3 linked regions of the Homo sapiens genome follow. The protein of the gene in region 1 purifies or fractionates together with the protein of each later gene. This does not show direct contact. Each region holds a gene or a part of one and is shown in the gene's direction. Other genes may lie near its edges.

Region 1 (7,000 bases):
GCTGAGTGTTCACACTGAGCCAGTACCATGCCCACCTGGGTGTCTCGCCTTCTGGCATCACAGTCCCAGCCTCCCTCACTCCCAGTGCTGTTTCTCGTGACCGCAGCCGACCGTGCACTCTCTGTCTCCCACCTCACGCAGCGGATGACGGAGGCTTTGAGAGTGGCGCGTACAACAACAGCGCCATCGCCACCCCGCACCTGGACGCCTTGGCCCGCCGCAGCCTCCTCTTTCGCAATGCCTTCACCTCGGTCAGCAGCTGCTCTCCCAGCCGCGCCAGCCTCCTCACTGGCCTGCCCCAGGTGAGGTGCAAGGGGCGGGAGGAGGGGGTGGGCAGGGAGTAGACAGGCTGCGTCCGGGGCCCAGGCCTCTGCCACGTCTCCCATCCCTGGGATCCCGGGGGGTGTTGCCCACTTTCCCTCCCACCTCCAGGAGGAGGCACAGCCTATGGCTGTGAGTGCAGACTAGGGGCTCCGACTCACCCGCCAGCCCTGGCTGCACTGCTGTGTGTGGCCTTGAGCAAGTCACCTACCTCCTTGTGCCTCAGTTTCCTCATCTGTAAGATGGTGGGTGTAATGAGATGCCACTCTAGTTATGGAGATTGGCGGGGCTAATGCTTTGTATGTAAACACTTAGTGCGAGGCCTGGTGGGCTCACTCAGCGTGAACCGCCATGGCCACAGTGTCCCAGGAACGCCATGGTGCAGGGAGCGGACACCGTTAAGGCACACATGCTCCTATTTTACTGTGGTAAAATGCACAAACATCAACATTCCCATCTTAGCCATTTTTCAGCGCACAGTTCCGGGGCATTAAGTGCATTCACAGTGTTATGCAGCCATCACCACCATCCATCTCCAGAACTTTTCCATCTACCCAAACAGAAGCTCTGTCCCATGAAACACCAGCTCCACATTCTCCCTCCCCATCCCCTGTCTCTATGAATCTGACTGCTCCAGGGGCCACATAAGAGTGGAATCACACAGGACTAGTCCTTTTTTTTTTTGAGTTGGAGTCTCACTCTGTCACCCAGGCTGGAGTGCTGTGGTGCGATCGTGGCTCACTGCAGCCTCTGCCTCCCCGGTTCCAGCGAGTCTCCTGCCTCAGCCTCCCGAGTAGCTGGGATTACAGGTGCGCGCCACCACGCCTGTCTAATTTTTGTATTTTTAGTAGAGATGGGGTTTCATCATGTTGGTCAGGCTGGTTTCGAACTCCTGGCCTCAAGTGATCTGCCCGCCTCGACCTCCCAAAGTGCTGGGATTACAGGCGTGAGCCACCGAGCCCGGCCCCCCTTTTGTGTCCTTACTTCACTCAGCACAATGTCCTCAGGGTTAACCATATGCTGTAGCACGAGTCAGAACTTCCCTCCTCTTCAGGGCTGACTCATATTCCAGTGGATGGATGGGCCCCGTATTTTGCTTCTCCATATTCATCCGTCAGTGGGCACTTGGGTTGCTGCTACCCTTTGGCTGTTGTGAATAAAGCTGCTATGAACATGGGTGTTTAAGGACACTTGTTCTTTTAGTCTCACTCTGTTGCCCAGGCTGGAGTGCAGTGGTGTGATCTCGGCTCACTGCAACCTCCACCTCCCAGATTCAAGCCATTCTCCTACCTCGGCCTCCCGAGTAGCTGGGACTACAGGCGCCCGCCACCACGCCCAGCTAATTTTTGTATTTTTAGTAGAGACGAGGTTTCACCATGTTGGCCAGGCTGGTCTCCATCTCCTGACCTCGTGATCCACCTGCGTTGGCCTCCCAAAGTGCCGGGATTACAGGCGTGAGCCACCACGCCCGGCCGGCAGTCTGAGTTTTTAAAATGTACACATCTTTTACAATATAAAATAACTAGGTAATAAAACAAGGCCTGACCCTGTCTTTTTCACTCTGTAACGTGTGATCATAACAGAAGAGTTCAAAAGTACGGATACGCAAAAAGAACATCAAGGCCACCCTCGTGTCGGTGCACGCCCTGCAGGTCCCCTTCTTTCTGGCGAAGTCCTCCTTTCACGGGAGGGACCCATGGGCCTATCGGGCAGGGAGTGGGAGGTACAGCCAGTGTCTCTGGGTGCTGGCCACTCGAAGTCTAAATCAGGGCCCCGAGAAGGCCCCTGGGGATGGGAGGGCCGTGGGAGAACAGGTGCGGCAGGCGGGCTCTGGCTGTCCGGGGGCCCCGGACCTCATGCGCCTTTGCTGGCAGCATCAGAATGGGATGTACGGGCTGCACCAGGACGTGCACCACTTCAACTCCTTCGACAAGGTGCGGAGCCTGCCGCTGCTGCTCAGCCAAGCTGGTGTGCGCACAGGTGAGGACCCCGTGCCGAGGACAGGGCGTGGGGTGAGGCACAGAGGCCAGGCCAGAGCCCAGGAGGTTCGGCACCTTGTACCAAGGCACGCTCAGCCCCCGTGGCCTGCCCTTAGCTCTTGTCCCAAAGGATCTGGGCCTGGGTCTCCTGGCTGGGCTGTGTGTCCACGAGAACCCACAGTGCGCTTAGGGCCGAGAGGGGCAGAGAAGGGAGCAGAAAGGGTTGGGAGGCTGAAGGGACTCTGGCCAGGCCTCTCTTCCCGCCCAGGCATCATCGGGAAGAAGCACGTGGGGCCGGAGACCGTGTACCCGTTTGACTTTGCGTACACGGAGGAGAATGGCTCCGTCCTCCAGGTGGGGCGGAACATCACTAGAATTAAGCTGCTCGTCCGGAAATTCCTGCAGACTCAGGATGACCGGTATGAGTCGGGGCCCCTGCCCCTTCCCCCTGGCGGCCGGTACCAGAGCACAGCCCGGAGTCTTCCGGCGGGATGCATGGGCCCCCACGTGGCTCGAATGGGGGCAGGGGAGAAGGTTCCAGGTACTCGAGTTAGCCTGGTCAGAGGGAGAAGGGACGTGGGGAAACTGAGGCAGTGAGGGTCACAGGTTGACTTCCAGATACAGAGGAGGAGGCAGAGCCGAGGGGCTTCCTGTGCCACGTGGCAGTGGCCCCGCAGCCTTGGCAATGAGCCTCCTCCCGTGCAGGCCTTTCTTCCTCTACGTCGCCTTCCACGACCCCCACCGCTGTGGGCACTCCCAGCCCCAGTACGGAACCTTCTGTGAGAAGTTTGGCAACGGAGAGAGCGGCATGGGTCGTATCCCAGACTGGACCCCCCAGGCCTACGACCCACTGGACGTGCTGGTAGGACGGCCCCTCCTGTGTTTCAGGACGCCCGTCAGCCCTGGGTCGGGGACCCTGGCCTCCTACGAGCTTGCAGCCCTGGCCCTAGATGATGAAGAAAGAGGCTCTGACCAAATCGGATTCAGGTTCCCAACCTCGGGGCCACAGAGAGAACCGTAGAGAGACGGGGTGGTCCGGAGTGAGGCTGTTCTGGGCTAACCCATTTGCAGGAGGCCCCGGGGAGAAGGCTGGACACCGCTCCCCCGGTCTGTCTGTTCTAAGCCTGGCTCCCCACCGCCTGCCCCAGGTGCCTTACTTCGTCCCCAACACCCCGGCAGCCCGAGCCGACCTGGCCGCTCAGTACACCACCGTCGGCCGCATGGACCAAGGTGGGCTTGCAGAACCGGGCACTGGAGGGGGTGCCACGGCCGGGGTCCCCCATCCTGGGCCAGCGCCCTCTTAGGTCACGGCATAATGTGGGTGAGGGTCCCAGTGTGGCAGGCCCTGTGCTGCAGCTGGCAGAGCCCACATTGAGAGGAGGGGCCTGTGGGTGGCATCAGGACCCAACCCCGGGGCTGCCCTGATGTGGACCTGCTCCTGGGCTGGGGCCTTCGGGTGCCCCAGAGGTTGCGTGAAGACTTCAGATATTTCCAGTCACAGGACCTGGGTCAGATTTGGGGGTTTGGAGTTCCTTAGCATATGCAGATGGAGATCTTGAGGTCTGTGAGTTTTTTGTGGTTGATGGCTTACAGCAACCAAAATTTGTACTCCCACAGTTCAGGAGGCCAGAAGTTTGAAATCAAGGTGTCAGCAGGGCCATGCTCCCCTGAAGGCCTAGGGGAGACCCTGCCTTTCCTCTTCCAACTTCTGGGGGCTGTGCCAGTGCTGGGCGTTCCTGGGCTGGCGGCAGAATCGCCCCCATCCCCGCTGAAGCCTTCACATGGCCTTTTTTCCTGTGTCTCCTCTTTGTGTCTCCACTTCTTCTTTTTTTTTTTTTTTGAGACTGAGTCTTGCTCTGTCACCCACGCGGGAGTGCAGTGGCGCAATCTCGGCTCACTACAACCACCACCTCCCAGGTTCGAGCGATTTTTCTGTCTCAGCCTCCAAAGTAGCTAGGACTGCAATCGCACCGCACGCCACCATGCCCAGCTAATTTTTATATTTTTAGTAGAGACGGGGTTTCACCACATTGGCCAGGCTGGTCTTGAACTCCTGACCTCGTGATCCGCCCACCTCAGCCTCCCAAAGTGCTGGGATTACAGGTGTGAGGCACCGCGCCCGGCCTGTTTCCGCTTCTTATAAGGACCCCGTCGGGTTTAGGGCCTACCTGAGCACTTCAGGATGATTTTGTCCCAAGATCTTTATTCGTGAAGTTCCCCTTTCCAAACAAGAACCCCTTCACAGATTCCAGCACACATGTCTTTTGGGGTCAGGGACGACAGGAGGTCAGGACCTTTGCCATTTCCCTATTGGTGCCATTAATTCTTAGTGAGCTGGGAAGGAGCGGGTATAGAGGAAGCCTTGTCCTCTGGCCCCAGCTGGGAAGGAGCGAGTATAGAGGAAGCCTCGTCCTCTGGCCCCTGCCCTATTTGCTCCATGGGACAGACACGAGATTCCGGAGAACTCAAAAGCCGGCGGGCACCAGGGAGCAGCTGCCTGGGGGTGACACAGAAGTGCCAAGGGATGGCTGGAGTCCCTGGAGGCCCATTCGAGGCCTGCTCAGGGAATGGGAGCTGGGCGGAGCTGGGCAAGAGCTGGGCAAGAGCCAGGGCCATTGGGAAGAACTACAGGGTGCTTTCGAATCCGGAAAGCGCTGGAGCCCAGCGGCCGGATGCAGCAGCAGGTGGGTCTACACACACCACCCGCTGCCTCCCTCCGTGTCTGCGGCTGAGCTCTGCTTCTCGGCCCCTCACCACAGGAGTTGGACTGGTGCTCCAGGAGCTGCGTGACGCCGGTGTCCTGAACGACACACTGGTGATCTTCACGTCCGACAACGGGATCCCCTTCCCCAGCGGCAGGACCAACCTGTACTGGCCGGGCACTGCTGAACCCTTACTGGTGTCATCCCCGGAGCACCCAAAACGCTGGGGCCAAGTCAGCGAGGCCTACGTGAGCCTCCTAGGTATGCCTTTGTCTGTCTCCGTCAGGAAAGGTGTGGGAGTGGATCTGGGACGGGGCCATGACCTGTCAGATGCTGCTCCACACCCATTACCTAATGTGGCTCTCATATCATCTGGGTGAGGAAGGGACTGTCACTCCCACTCTACAGAGGAAAAGAATGAGGCTCAGAGAGGTGAAGTAAGCTGCTCAGGATTGCACAGCTGGTAAGCACTAAGCTAGGATTCTCGCCTGGATCCTGCTGCTTTCAAAACCATTGCCTTTTCCCCGCCTACCTCCGATGAGCTTCAGAATCACCTGGGATGCTTGTTAATATCCAAATTGCAAATCCCAGGGTGTCCGATTCAGTAGATCTTGGCGGGCTCAAGAATTTGCATGTCTGACAAGTTCCCAGGTGATGCCGATACTGTGGGCCTGGGGACCCCTCTCTGAGCATCCGTGCACCCCATCCTGCCTTCCTGGGGGACCCAAAGCACCTCATGACCCTGCTCATTCCTAAAAAGACCTAGGACATCTAGTCCCATGTTATGGATGTGCAGACAAAGACACGGGTGCAGGAAGACTTTGTGAGGGGCTCGGGGTGACCCCTTCGGCACAGGGCAGAGGCTCGTGTGTCCTGCCCACTGCCTGGCAGAGCCTCCAGGTGGGGTGGGCCCGGGACAGCAGGAAACTCAGGTTCCCTTTCCCTCCGAGCTCGCGGCCCACATCTCTCTTGGGGCCCACATCTCTCTCTGGCCCCAAATGATGAGCCAGGAGCACTGTGGCCACACCCACCACAGGGGCTGGAGTACACGAGCTACCAAAAAGGAGACTTCTTTTCCAGTCCATGGGATTTTAGAAGGATCCTAAATGTCACCGAATCAGGGCCTCTTGTTATACCATTCAAGGCACTGAGGCCCAGAGAGATGACGTGGCGGTGAGAGGTGTCGGCTCGACAAGGCACCTCCCGCTGCTGATTGGATTGGAGAAGGGAGCCGCCCAGAGTGGCGTAGGTTCGGCCCTTCCGAGGGCAGCTCCTGTGTGCTGAGGGCTCTGCTGCTCTGAGATGCCGCGTCCCTTCCAGACCTCACGCCCACCATCTTGGATTGGTTCTCGATCCCGTACCCCAGCTACGCCATCTTTGGCTCGAAGACCATCCACCTCACTGGCCGGTCCCTCCTGCCGGCGCTGGAGGCCGAGCCCCTCTGGGCCACCGTCTTTGGCAGCCAGAGCCACCACGAGGTCACCATGTCCTACCCCATGCGCTCCGTGCAGCACCGGCACTTCCGCCTCGTGCACAACCTCAACTTCAAGATGCCCTTTCCCATCGACCAGGACTTCTACGTCTCACCCACCTTCCAGGACCTCCTGAACCGCACCACAGCTGGTCAGCCCACGGGCTGGTACAAGGACCTCCGTCATTACTACTACCGGGCGCGCTGGGAGCTCTACGACCGGAGCCGGGACCCCCACGAGACCCAGAACCTGGCCACCGACCCGCGCTTTGCTCAGCTTCTGGAGATGCTTCGGGACCAGCTGGCCAAGTGGCAGTGGGAGACCCACGACCCCTGGGTGTGCGCCCCCGACGGCGTCCTGGAGGAGAAGCTCTCTCCCCAGTGCCAGCCCCTCCACAATGAGCTGTGACCATCCCAGGAGGCCTGTGCACACATCCCAGGCATGTCCCAGACACATCCCACACGTGTCCGTGTGGCCGGCCAGCCTGGGGAGTAGTGGCAACAGCCCTTCCGTCCACACTCCCATC
Region 2 (7,034 bases), on another chromosome or scaffold:
GTCTGAATCCCTGCTCTGCCAGTTGTTCTGTGGCTTCAAGCAGGTTAACTTCCCTGAGCCTTTGTATTTTCATGTGAGTATTGGCCGGGAATGGTGGCTCACGCCTATAATCCCAGCTTTTTGGGAGGCTGTGGTGGGCGGATCACCTGAAGTCAGGAGTTTGAGACCAGCCTGACCAACGTGGTGAAATCCTGTCTCTACTAAAAAATACAAAAATTACCCAGGTGTGGTGGCGCATGCCTGTAATCCCAGCTACTTGGGAGACTGAGGCAGGAGAATTGCTTGAACCTGGGAGGTGGAGGTTGCAGTGAGCCGAGATCACACCACTGCACTCCAGACTGGGCAACAAGAGCAAAACTCTGTCTCCAAAAAAAAAAAAAGTATTAATCTAATACCTACTTTTCAGGGTAGTTGTATTACTTGAGATGATGTATTTAAAACGCCCAGCATTTTGCTTTGGGAGGCTGAGGTGGGAGGATCATTTGAGGTTAGGAGTTTGAGACCAGCCTGGGCAAAAGAGTGAGACCCCTGTCTCTCCAAAAAATAAAAATCATCCAGGTGTGGTGGCATGCACCTGTAGTCCTAGCTGCTGGGAGGCTGAGGATGGAAGATCGCTTGAGCCCAAGAGTTTGAGGTTATAGCTTTGATCACTCCACTGCACTCCAGCCTGGGTGACAGAGGGAGACCCTGCCTCAGAGAAAAAAATGCCTAGCACAGTACTTAGAACACACAAAGACAATACATTGTAGTTGTCTTTTTTATAGCAATTATGAATCATACGTGGAGCTTGCTGGTCTAATCCAGCTTTTTAAAAAGGATTCAGATGGAATTGACTTTCATGTCATTGAGTAATGTCTTGTTCAGTTGATTCCTGTAGGTCTGCCATCACCAGGGAAATACAGTAATATTGTCGATTTTGGAGTTTAATTTAAATGCTCATGATCTGCAGGTCTGTGTACTACAGACTGTTGCAACTTTTTTTTTTTTTTTTTTTTGAGACTGAGTCCTGCTCTGTCACCTAGGCTGGAGTGCAGTGGCACGATCTCAGCTCACCTCTGCCTCCCAGGTTCAAGCAATTCTCCTGCCTCAGCCTCCCAAGTAGCTGGGATTACAGGCACCCGCCACCATGCCCAGCTTATTTTTGTATTTTTGGTAGAGACAGGGTTTTGCCATGTTGACCAGGCTGGTCTCGAACCCCTGACCTCAGGTAATCTGCCCATGTGAGCCTCCCAAAGTGCTGGGATTACAGGCGTGAGCCACCATGCCCAGCTGCAACTTTTTATCTTGTTTGCAGTTGGAGAAATTACTGTTTTTAACATTGTTTCTTTTCAATACCTGGAAATTTGATCAAATACATTGTCATTTCATTTCACCTTTTTTCTTGTTTTGAGTAATTTACTGTTTTACATTATAGAATTTGTTGTAGCATTTTATTTTAAAGCATTCTTAGCATATTTATAGGTATTCTTTAAATGAGTCACTACTGAAATACATGATTTTTATTTCTTTTGTTTTGTTCGGATTACCTTCCTATTACTGTTAACCATCCATAGTTTTGGATTGACTATCAGGGTGTACTTTTCGTTATCGTGGAAAAATTAGTTGACCCCATACACAGGCTTCTAATCATGTAGCTATTCTTTAAAGACTCAGATTAACAAGATTCAAAGGTTGTTAGATAACTTCTTGTTGGTTTTATGTGACCCTGGATTCTTTTGTGTGGCTGTATCTCTACTGTCATTATTATTTCATAGGGAATTTCATAGAGAATAGTAGTATCATATACTATTGCAGAGAGGATAGGAATATGCATTTTTGCAACCCTTATGAGGCCTTCTGACTTATTGTTTCTAGAAGATCAAATATTTTTTCCTGAAAGTCCTTTGAACCACATTAAATAGGCTAAGGATTAAATGCCAAAAAGGAGATAATTTTTTTTTTAATTTTCTGGTTTATGTTTAGGCATTATTTACCTTAGGCTGTATTTAAAAAGAACCATAATGGTAAGAAAACAGTATGATTTTAGAAACATGCATTCTATATTATTGGTTTCATTATACATTTCTGTGTGTGTGTGCACAAAAGAATGACTGCATAAAGCAAAGGTTCACATTTTTTTTAATTTTATAAATTCCAGGGAGAAACACATCTCATCTTTCCTAAAAAAGCTTCAGTGGAGCAGCTGCAAAAAATTCGTGACCTGATTGCCATAGAGAGAAGTAGCAGACTGGATGGCTCAAATAAGAGCCACAAAGTAAAGTCATCTCAGCAACCTGCAGCCAGTACCCAGCTTCCTACAACACCATCTTCAAATCCCAGTGGGTTAAACCAGCACACAAGGAACCGTCAAGGGCAGTCATCAGATCCACCATCTGCTTCAACGGTAATGTTAGAATTAAACCTTCTTTAACTGTTTCTTTCAAAGTGTTGAAACAGCAAAAGCTTTGGAATGTGTTATGATTTATTCCTGAATTTATGCCCCATATTTTGTTCTTAGTTCTTATAACTCTAAAACATCCAAATTTCTTCAGCTCTTTAAAAAATTGTCAGATTTCCTCTACTGCATTAATACTTCTGATCTAAATTGTACCTGCTGCCTTTCACTGTGGGGGTTATTTCCAACAGCACAACCATTATCAATACCTTAATTCAATAAAAAAGCTTCTTTAGGTTTAAGGTAATTAAGAATGCATTAATTTAATGATAGTGGATGCTAGCAAATTAGTGAAATTTTATTATTAATATACACCATATATACTTGTGAAGAACTAAAGTCAAACTTACAGGCATTCTTGATAAACTGAAATGATTCCATTTGATAGGAAATTATCCTGTTTACAAAAATCTCTTTTGACCAAGGTCCTTACATATTCTTCTCCTAAGTTTTTACTGTCAGAAAAATTCTTGTGATATTTCTGTAAGTCTAACAAGCACCTCAATGGATTTTTATGCCCCTCCCTGAGATCATGTGCATTCCATTTTGAATACCTTAGGTCTTCATCAGTTTTGCAGTTAAGGTTGGTACAGTTACAGAAGCTCACTTAACATCTTTCTTGGTTTTTAACACCTTTTCTTAGGAGTTTTCCAATTACAGTGTTAGAATATATCTTTTAAGATTTCCTACTTTATCTTTTTAATTGCAGTATTATAGTTTAAAATGCACATAGTTAACCAATCTGCAAAAAAGCTTGCAAACATTTTATTTTACAAAATATCTCTTTCCTGGGCTAAGTAGTATTTTGTTAGTGTCCTGGCTCAGGAAAGCCATTCACATTTTCTTAATCTTGTTTAAACTTCTTTTCTTTTGTTTTGTTTTTTTCTTTTTTTGAGACAGAGTCTCATTCTGTCCAGGCTGTAGTACAGTGGCAAAATCTTGGCTCACTGCAACCTCTGCCTCCCAGGTTGAAGTGATTCTCGTGCCTCAGCCTCCTGAGTTTCTGGAAATAAAGGCATGCACCATCTCTCCTGGCTAATTTTTGTTTTTTCTTCTTTTTGAGACGGAGTTTCACTCTTGTTGCCCAGGCTAGAATGCAATGGCACGATCTTGGCTCACTGCAACCCCCACCTCCTGGGTTCAAGAGATTCTATAGCCTGCGCCTCCCGAGTAGCTGGGATTATAGGCACCTGCCACCACACTTGGCTAATTTTTTGTGTTTTTAGTAGAGACGGGGTTTCTCCATGTGTGCCAGGCTGGTCTCAAAACTCCTGACCTCAAGTGATCCACCTGCCTTGGCCTCCCAAAGTGCTGGATTACAGATGTGCACCACCACACCCAGCCCTTTTTTTAAGTTCTTAATCTTACAATTCAGATATAGTTCCAGGTCTTTAAAATCCTGTCCGTCACCAGAAAGCCTCTAAACACTACACTAAAAACAGAATGTCATTCTGTTGGCAAAACACATTCTAGTGTAGAAGAAAATAAATTTTCTCAAAGGTGTATGCTATTAGTAGGCTAGTGTATATCAATTCTTACTACTCTAGTCCTTCACACAAAATATCTTCTGTGTTGAAGTTGAGAGAAATTAGAATGAATCTTGTTTTTCATAGACAACTCTTGGTTATTCGTGGATCACTGGAATATATGTATTTCTTTAAAGTATTTTGTTAATTATGCTTTCATCATTAGTTGCTATACTACAGAATTTGACAGTTTTCTTCTACCTTGCCCATTTTGAGTGGAGATACTGAGAATTAAAATGTACCAAAGTCAGGGAGCCAGAGAGATATTTTTTAAAGCATTTAACCTGTGTATAAACTAGATAAGTCCTAGTGAACTTATAACTTTTTTTTTTTTGGTTAAAACTATATCAAGTAAAATGTCGATGTATAAGTTAAGATGATAGTCACTGATGTTGACGTTTGCCAGTAAGCTTTTAAGATACAAAATACTGGAATATATTGATACTCAATAAATGATGATAGTGGTGGTGATTGTTAGAAAGTTAATCTTGCTACTTTTTCTGGACATTTTATGTTAATAGAATTATAGTATGTAATCTTTTGTTTCTAGCTCTTTGTGTAACATTTTTGAAGTTCTTCGTATTGCAGGATATATCAGTATTTTGTTCCTTTTTATTGTTGAATAATATTCCATTTTAAGGATATGCCACATATTGTTTCCATTCATCAGTTGATGGACATTTGGGTTGTTTCCCATGTTTGCCTATTATGAATAATGCTGCTGTGAACATTCACATACAAATTTTTGTGTAGACATATGTTTTTATTTCTCTTGAGTAGATTCCTAGGAGTGGAACCACTGGGTTGTATGGTAAGTTTATATTTATGTTTTTAAGAAATTACCAAGCTGTTTTTCAAAATTGTACCATTTTACTTTATCATCAGAAATATGTGAGGCTTCCCGTTTCTTAGTATCCTCACCAACCATTGTTACTGTCTTTTTTAGTATACCCATTTTAGTGGTTGTTAAGTAGTAGTTCATTTTGGTTTTAATTTGCATTTGCCTGATGACTTAATTGATTTTCAAACTTGCTGGTTGTACATGCTAAGTGTTTAGTGTTCCTAATGGAAGTAACTTTCTGATAATCCTTTATTTTTATACCCATTGCCTTCCAAAAGCAGATTCAAAACAGCAAGGACAATTTTTCAATGACATGGTACCTCAGAATGTTAGAAGCATTATGTTTCCAGCTTCACAACTTTATCTCGGTTGAAAATGTGATTCTGAAGTATAATATGCTTAAAATATACATTTAGTACTTTTTACTCAGCTAATCTAAATGTATGCTTTTATTTAGCACATGACTACTTTGAGTATGTATATGAAATTGTTAGGAACTTTTCATCAACTCTTTATCACTCTAGAAATTACTGCCAGTTTATATATGGGTATGTGTTTATTTAAACCAATTATCATAATTTGTGATTATTTCATTGAAATTATAAAAGTCATATATTATCAGATAATGATAAATAATAAAACGAACTAGTTAATTTTAAAACTAATTTTATCTCATAAACCAACAATAAGGCAACCTCTTAGTCTTAGTCTAGATCTGTGTGCGAGCTTTTTTTTTTTTTTTTTTTTTTTTTTTTTTTTTTTTTTTTTTTTTTTTTTTTTTTTTTTTGAGACAGAGTTTCACTCTTGTTGCCCAGGCTGGAGTGCAATGGCGTGATCTCGGCTCACCGCAACTTCTGCCTCCTGGGTTCAAGTGATTCTCCTGCCTCAGCCTCCGTAGTAGCTGGGATTACAGGCATGTGCCACCACGTCTGGCTAGTTTTAGTATTTTTAGTAGAGACGGGGTTTCTCCATGTTGGTCAGGCTGGTCTCGAACTCCCAACCTCAGGTGATCCGCCCACCTTGGCCTCCCAAAGTGCTGGGTTACAGGCGTGAGCCACCGTGCCCGGCCTGTGTGCTAGCTTTGTAAGAGAAGAAACCTATTTGAACATAAGATTTAAACATCCACTTTCTTTTTCATGAACCTACCACTCTTAAAAGTTAATACTTGCATGCCCTCTGATAGGGGATTACATTGTGTCCTTATATCAGCATACTTAGCGTATGTTAAAAATGAAGATGTGATCTGTTTTGACATGAATAACATTATTATATGGAAAAAAGGTAAACTGAGAATTCCAAAATTAAACAACATATGTTGTCTGTATATGTGTAATATTTTGATTTTTCTTATTAGAAACATACACACACACATACATATATATATATGTTCATTTTTTTAAAGGTTTGGAAGGCCATACACAAACATCTTAACCATAATGTACTCTGAGTGATGAAATTATGGGTGCTTTCATATTATTTATACTATTGAGTATTTTCTGAAATATTTTTTGAAGCAACATGTATTACCTTTATAAATAGAAAAGTTTTTCTTTAAATAAGTTTATTGAAGTCACAAGTTGATTAAAACATATTTAAAATAACAAAACTTTTATGTCTAAAAACAGGTTCTAAATTTTAAAGCCTCAAAATAAAGGGTTGCATAAAATTAAAGAGAGGGCAAGTAGGCTCAAGCCTTGATTTGTTGTGTGTGTGTGTGTGTGTGTGTGTGTTTTTTTAACTAAAGAAGTGAATTTGCTAATCTAACTTCCATTGATTAATTACCACGATTTGACAAAATTATACACATTGTACTTTTTTCTTATGAAGTCTTAAATATATCTCATATCAGAAATCAAAATAATTGGAAGTATGATTAGTGAAGGAAAAATCTCTTTGATCTAAAACCAACAGATTTCACATTTTAAACTTCCATTTGTACTCTAAGTAACTTTAGTCTCTCAATTAACTGCTGCCTTATGTAGCATTAGTACATGGTTACCCAGCTGCTGTAATCACCATGTAATCAGCAACTTTCTATTTTTATGACTTAGTTTTTTCAGAGTTGTGCCAATGAATATGTAAAGAAATAAGGCAAGAATATAAACTTTATTGTTTAAAATATTTTGAGTGCCATTAAAACTACAATGAATGAGGTAATTTCCAGATTGAAAAGAATTAAATTGAAAATAAAAATACTCCGGATGAATTCTTACCTTCTTGGTAAATGAAAGTC
Region 3 (7,034 bases), on another chromosome or scaffold:
GATATAAGATAGAAGAAGGTCAGAGACATATATTTTTGAATTAGAAGTGCCAGTGTGAACTCAAAAGGTATTTTATATTTAAATACATGTAGGTATATGTAAGTGCATGTGCATATGTACATGTACACACACGTGCACATCAACACTAGGCTTCCTACGTCTGTTTGCTGAAAAGATCTAGAAATAATAACCAACCTAGTGGAATTGATCTTCCCTGGTTTCCAGATTGTCATCTTGATACAACATTTTCCACAAAAGAAGCCAGGGTTTTTGGAGAAAGACTGATTGTATGTCCAATGCAAGGATTTTAAAAGATGAGCCTGGTGGTGCATCCTGGAAACCTAACCAGATAGTAAGAAAACTGACACTACTTTATGTCGGAAGTATTGAGGAACCAATATGAAGAGGCTTCCAGTGGCCAAAGATGTGACAGTTAGAGCATCAGTGTGGATAATAACAGGAATGGATTGAAATGCATCGAATATGCTTGTCTCTCTGAGTCCATAATACTAAAAAATTAATTGGTCACCTTTGAAGGATAAATAGAAGCCCATATCATTGTTTTGAAAAATTGTAAATAGAAGATATGAGCATTTATCCTGCCTTTTCCATGTACTGTATCATGGGGGATCAAATAATAGACGGGGAGGTTTTTCCTTATAGAAGTATCCCAGCTAATGAATTAAGAAGGGTTGATTGAATTTTAATATCACCACTTCGTAACCTCAAATGAATGAACAGATCAAGACATTGAGTAGCAGTGCTGCTGACATCACAAAAGAAACACCCAGGCATTATTGCCTCCTGATGGGAGAATGCACTACCTTCTATGAAATTATCTTGCTAAATTAATGGAATCTGTATCTCATGTAGCCTCTACATCCAATTTACAGGAGATCAGAAGACAGAAGAACATGTTAAACTACATCATGTGGGTACAGTCAGCAAATTTCAGACGATGGGAAACTGCAGGTCAAACAACCCAGGTTCTTCAACAAATAAAATGCAAGGGAAAAAAAAAAGATGGAGGAGGATCCTGTAGATTAAGAGATTTAGAAGGCATCAAAACAGACTCGCCTGTTTAGGGATGTATATTTCATGGTAATACTAAAGAGAAAAGCAAGAAAGTGATGACCATAGAGGTGTGGTTTGTGATTATTGTTGCGGGGGGCCCCGGAGGGCTTCTTGGCCGTTTGCAAAGTTTTCTTTCTTGGCAAGAGTGTTAGATCCAGGAATGTGCCTTGTAATGATTCATTAAGCTACTTGTTTGTTTCACACAATTTTCTAGATTGATATATTTTACAACTCAAAGGTTAAAAAGTAGATGAAACATAGATCATTCTGCAGATTTTCATTGACCTCTCTCAAGATTGGCAAGTTGTTTGTTTCTTCATGATGTCAGCCAGATAAGTTTCATCACTGTCTCTCTCCTGCTTCTTATAATCCCCATATGTATTTGGGATATGTGGTGAAGAATTTTATCCACTCAACAAGTGTTATGGAACATCTACTATGTGCCAGATGCTATTCTAGGCACTAGGGATACAGCAGTGAACAACACAAAAAAAATCCCTGCCTTCATGGGGCTTATACTGTAGTGGGCGAGATGGGCACTAAGAAATTGGTTACATTAGAAAATGAAACATGCTATAGAGAAATATAATCGGGGAAGAAGGCAGGGGAGTGGTGAGGGGGTACCATTTAAAATAATGTAGGGGGCCTTACTCAAGGGGACATTTGAGTTGAAACCTAGGAGAAGGTGAGAACAGACTGCAGTCTCTGGAGAGAATGTTCCAGGCAGAAGAACAGGGCACTAAGGTGAGCACCCGCCAGACAGTAAAGGAACAGCTGGAATGCTTGGGTGGCTGGACTGAGGGGGAGTGGCAGGAATTGGGGTCAGAGAGGTAATGGGGCGAGAGTTCAAGAGACCTTTTAAGTCCTCCTTAGGACTTGGGCTTTTTCTTGGAGCGAGGTGGGAAACCGCTGGAGACTTGGAGGCGAGGATTGGGTGGCGTGACCGTACGTGTTACTGCAGTGCTCTGGCTGCCGTATTGAGGATGGACTGTGGAGGGGCCAGGTCTGAAGCGGGAAGCTGAGGTAGGAGGATGTTGCTGCAACACAGGAATGCTGATGGTGGTGTGTGGGAGTAATTGGGAAGTGTGCACATTTTGGATGTAATTTGAAGATAGTACCGATAGCATTGGCTGACAGGTCTTAAGTATGGCTTATGAGAGAAAGCAAGGCATCCAGGATGACTCGCAGGTTTTATGCCTCACTAGAATGATGGAGATGCCTTGATCAGAGATGAGGGTGACTCTGGGAGGGGAAGAAAGATGAAAGTGCTCAGCTATCTGAGTGGGATGTGGAGTAGATGGATAGTAGTTGATACAAAGGTCTAGAGTTCAAGAGAGAACTCTGGTCTGGAAAATAGGAGTTTTCATAATATGTGAAACCGTGAGGAACTCACCATGGCAGTGAGTGCCCAGGCCCAAGTGGCCCAAGCAGGGGGACCAGCAAAAGGTTCTAGATGCCTCCCCATCTTCTGAACCTCCCCCAGCTCAATTCCTTTTTCAGGCTGCTCTTCCATTTCCTTTTATGAAAGATACAGGCAAGTAAGTCTGAAGCCAGGCAGATAACTGTTCCTCAGATTTCAGTACAACTAATTTAGTATTATATTACAATTCAAAGACTGCTATTTCCATTATAATTATTATAAGAGAATGAACCAATTATATTTTTCTTGTTAAGCAAACTACATGGTATGTTAGTGTAATGTGAAAAATAGATAACTGAAAGTTTTCAAATCTTAATTCTTACTGACTTTTTGTTTCCAGAAAAGCTTTGACCTGGAAATACTACGCAAAAAAAATTCTTTACTACCTGCGGCAACAGAAGATCTTAAATAATCTTAAGGCCTTTCTTCAGCAGCCAGATGACTATGAGTCGTATCTTGAAGGTGGGTCTTTTCCCATATATGTGGACAGTAGTATTTCTGTAGGTAACTGATTAGTTTTTTAAGACCAGCAGAGGGAATTGTGTTCCTTGTGGTAAAGAAGTGAAAAAGCAAATCATGTTGCGTGGGCTTCTGCAGGTTGGATTATAGGGCCTGATCAATGAGGTAGTTCAAACTATTAAATTTAGAGCTAAGATTTTATCAAAGTCCACTAAAGAAATAGTGTTTTTTAAAGATGCATCATTGGCTTAAAATGTGAGAGTGATACTTTAGCTAATGAAGTAAATTCCTGTTTTTCCGAGCTTTAATGATCATTTCCAAATCAGAAGTAAATGTATCCAATTTTGTCTCCCTGTGACCTTGAGTAAATCCCTTAACCTCTCAGGTTGGAGTTTATTGAGGACAGAATGTTCTTGGGCATCAGTGAGTCTGCTTGTCCGTAATGAAAGGTGAGAAGGAAGAAGTTGAGTGGACAGGCAAGATGAAGGGAGTGGAGAATCTTTTTGTTCTTATTAAGTTGAACAGGAACAAAGTGAGACTTCCATTTTTTTTAAAATGATTTTGAATTCCTACAATATTACACAAACATTCCCATAAATTATGGTTATGAAATACAAATATGACTGGTCGTTTACTTTTATTCCCTACTTCTGATGTTTTACCAGATTGTTGATTTTTTTTTCCATTCCAGTGTATCTCATAGTCATGTTCCCATTCTGTTACTATTCCTTTTTTTAAAAAAAATGTATTTATTTTTAGAGACGGGGTCTTGCTATGTCACCTATGCTAGATTCAAACTCCCGTGCTCAAGTGCCACCACACCTGGCTGGCTTCTGTAACTAGTCTCATGCAGTCTATGGCCACCTCTCCTGGCAACAACTTTCTGAGTAATACTTGCTTTCATGAACATTACCCCCCCTTCCCTCCAAGTCAGCCAAAATACCAGTGCCAGCCCCATTAGAAATCTAGCCTTCACCACTGCATGTGAAACCTGCAATGTGGACAACTGATTTCCCTTTTATATTTAACCTCTACCTGCTTTTCAATGCCCTGCATAATCTGGTCCAGACCTTTGCTCCGTACTCTCCAGGATGTCCCATTTGCTCCAGCCAGGCCATTGTCTAGACTGGTGCCCCACAAATACACCTGGCTTCACTTCCTCATTCATGATATCCCTCCTTCTCATAATCCCTCTTGAAAATCCTACTCCCCCTCCATAATTCAGCTCAAGCCTCACTTCCATTAAATTTCCACTGACTACTTGGAGATTTTACTCACCTCAGAGCTACAGTAGCATTTAATAGTAAGCTGTCTTGCATTTTTTCTGTTTCCTGTGTATACATTTGTTTCTGTAACTAGTCCCTAAGCTTCCCGTGTTGTGGTCCTTGTGTTAGGATCACTGTATACCTCACAATGCTTAGTGTAAATGTTTATCAAGTGTATGAAAACCTAGTATCATCCAAAAGGAAATGAAACATCTGTTTCAGTTGATTAAAATAAATTCTCACTGCTAGAATCCCCTCATTTGTATACTGGAGTTGAGAAGCATCCTATCTTCTGTTTATTTCACAGTTAAGAATAGTATATTTTTTTGTAGCTTATGTATGAAAACAAATACTCCTTTTTCATTTTCTAAATACAAAGTTATAATTTTCAAAGAACTTCCACATCAGTGTCATAAGCATTGAGAAGCCATTGGAAGTTGTTTAGTAGTTGAGTGAATGACAGTTGGCTCTCCAAGTTTCTGATCCTTGGTGACTGACTGGAATAATGCTGATGCCATCGAAGAAGTCTGGGAATCATAGCATTAGGAAGGAACGGACTTCAGAAATGTGCAGCATAAACTGCTTCAGCTTCCAGGTAGGGAAGCTGGGGCCCTCGGAGGCCGAGGAGACAGTCCCTGGCTGGTGGCAACACTGGGACTGGGGTCGAGGTGTCTTGACACCCGTTCAACTGCTTTGAGCTCTGGAGCATTGGTAAGGGAGTCCAGGTTCTGAGCTGGTCTGAGATCTCTTTAATTTAAGGTGACTCGAGAGCTTCCCACATAACGGTGTCCTTACCCAAATGATGCTGTTAGCCCTTCAGTCTCTGCTTCCAAAATTACCTAAGACTGTGAAGAGGAGTGATTCTTAAGAGACTGTCTGCAGTGTGCTCTGCACAGCTTTTCAGCTGTAGGTTCCCCGAGCATAACTGTTTATCTCATTGGAAAGTGGGGTTAGCTCCAGAATCCATTTACTGTTCACCCTTGAGATGTGTAATTTGTTGAAATGGCACATCTGTCATGGAGGGCTTTCAAGTTGTTTTTTTTTGTTGTTTTGTTTTTTTAAAGGAACTGCCTTATACCATTAAGTTTTCAGAGTTGTTGGATTTGGAACCTATAACAGCTAGGGAGAGAGAAGTAGCTTGAAAAGATCTCCTTGATGTCATTTACTTCTCTTTGTAATAGAACATGAAACTGCGCCATATACCACGCAGTTTTTTAGTCCATGACTTCTGAGAGAAGTTTGATTTATGTATTTTTTTTTTTAAAGTTAAAGCTACTTTGTTATGAAAATGTTTGTTGCTCCTTCTCAGTGTGTTAGCAGCAAGGTCCATGGCCAAAACATGAAGCTTGTCCAGTGGGATGGTGTAAAGAGCCATGTCCCAGGATGTCCAGGGTAAAATTGCAAACTAATAAGAAAAGGGTAACGTGAGAATTTATTCGGTAATTCTTGTTCATTTTCAGGTGCTGTATATATTGACCAGTACTGCAATCCTCTCTCCGACATCAGCCTCAAAGACATCCAGGCCCAAATTGACAGCATCGTGGAGCTTGTTTGCAAAACCCTTCGGGGCATAAACAGTCGCCACCCCAGCTTGGCCTTCAAGGCAGGTGTGGCATTGCTTTGGATCCAGCTGTATTTATGAAAGAAAATCTAGAGGAATTGGTTAATTTGAGAGATTTGTTAGTGTGCTGCCATTATGTCATGAAAAAGTGATAAAATGACGTGACCACGTGTTTACCTGGTTGAAGTGTTGAACCTAAAACACTTCAAATACATACTGCCTTCTGCTTCCTAGATTGGCAACACTTGATTAATATTGTTAGGCCATTGCCAATGTCTTCATGTTGTGAGTTGTTTGGGGCACCTGTCACAACCTTTTTTGTGCTTGGGTCCCAGAGTAGATCTCTGTGTTTCAGGTGAATCATCCATGATAATGGAAATAGAACTCCAGAGCCAGGTGCTGGATGCCATGAACTATGTCCTTTACGACCAACTGAAGTTCAAGGGGAATCGAATGGATTACTATAATGCCCTCAACTTATATATGCATCAGGTAAATATAGGTACAGTAATATATGGGTATAGTAATATAGGTATAGTAACTTTTTTTTTCTGTTTTTAGAGACAGGGTCTCGCTCTGTTGCTCAGGCTGGAATGCAGTGGCGCGATCATAGCTTACCGCAACCTCAAACTCCTGGGCTCAGGCGATCTTGCCGCCGCACCCTCCTGAGTAGCTAGGACTACATGCCACCACACCCGGCTAATTTTTTATTTTTTGTAGAAATGAGGTCTTGCTATGTTGCCCAGCCTGGTCTCAAACTCCTGGCCTCAAGTGATCCTCCTGCCTTGGCCTCCCAAAGCGCTGGGATTATAGGTGTGAGCCACTGTGCCCATCCTATATGTATTTTTTTAAGCTTCTCTCTGATGGACCGTACATTCTTGAAGGTCAGTACTATGCCTTCCATCTCTGAGTGCTCGATGAAACTTATTTTTCCTTCTGCTGTAAGGATATTGTTGTGGAGTTTATCTGTTTCCTCATGGAGTATCCTCCATATGCAAACCCTTGAGATAAATTTTTGACTAAAAATAGATATTTCTCTGACTCTGTTTGGTCAGTTTGTATCTTGTGAACACTAAACTGTAAAACTAATCAGGGTCCTCTTTGCACTGGCCTCTAGCCATTTGGGAGAACCTGTGGCCCAGCTGTGTCAAGTTTGCATCTGTTATATTTATTTTTTATTTGCTTTCTGCCTAGTTCCATTTTCATATTTAGTTTGTTGCCCTGTCTGCTACTTTCATTTTATTTTGTTATATCG

The links.
Region 2: the proteins of SGSH (region 1) and NGLY1 purify together in Homo sapiens (co-immunoprecipitation; 2 studies listed by BioGRID and IntAct, with this or other methods). This does not show direct contact.
Region 3: the proteins of SGSH (region 1) and FBXO21 purify together in Homo sapiens (co-immunoprecipitation; 2 studies listed by BioGRID and IntAct, with this or other methods). This does not show direct contact.

Annotation. Positions count from the first base shown.
Region 1 is NC_000017.11:80,210,334-80,217,333, reverse strand, and holds part of SGSH (N-sulphoglucosamine sulphohydrolase isoform 1 precursor), read left to right. Parts: intron 1-141; coding exon 142-302; intron 303-2,195; coding exon 2,196-2,301; intron 2,302-2,568; coding exon 2,569-2,719; intron 2,720-3,005; coding exon 3,006-3,162; intron 3,163-3,448; coding exon 3,449-3,530; intron 3,531-5,059; coding exon 5,060-5,263; exon of another isoform or gene 5,264-5,410; coding exon of another isoform or gene 5,411-5,465; intron 5,466-6,146; coding exon of another isoform or gene 6,147-6,286; exon of another isoform or gene 6,287-6,322; coding exon 6,323-6,882; 3' UTR 6,883-7,000. UniProt on the Homo sapiens protein: Catalyzes a step in lysosomal heparan sulfate degradation.
Region 2 is NC_000003.12:25,759,415-25,766,448, reverse strand, and holds part of NGLY1 (peptide-N(4)-(N-acetyl-beta-glucosaminyl)asparagine amidase), read left to right. Parts: intron 1-2,137; coding exon 2,138-2,383; intron 2,384-7,034. UniProt on the Homo sapiens protein: Specifically deglycosylates the denatured form of N-linked glycoproteins in the cytoplasm and assists their proteasome-mediated degradation. Cleaves the beta-aspartyl-glucosamine (GlcNAc) of the glycan and the amide side chain of Asn, converting Asn to Asp.
Region 3 is NC_000012.12:117,173,442-117,180,475, reverse strand, and holds part of FBXO21 (F-box only protein 21), read left to right. Parts: intron 1-2,834; coding exon 2,835-2,956; intron 2,957-5,678; coding exon 5,679-5,825; intron 5,826-6,134; coding exon 6,135-6,271; intron 6,272-7,034. UniProt on the Homo sapiens protein: Substrate-recognition component of the SCF (SKP1-CUL1-F-box protein)-type E3 ubiquitin ligase complex.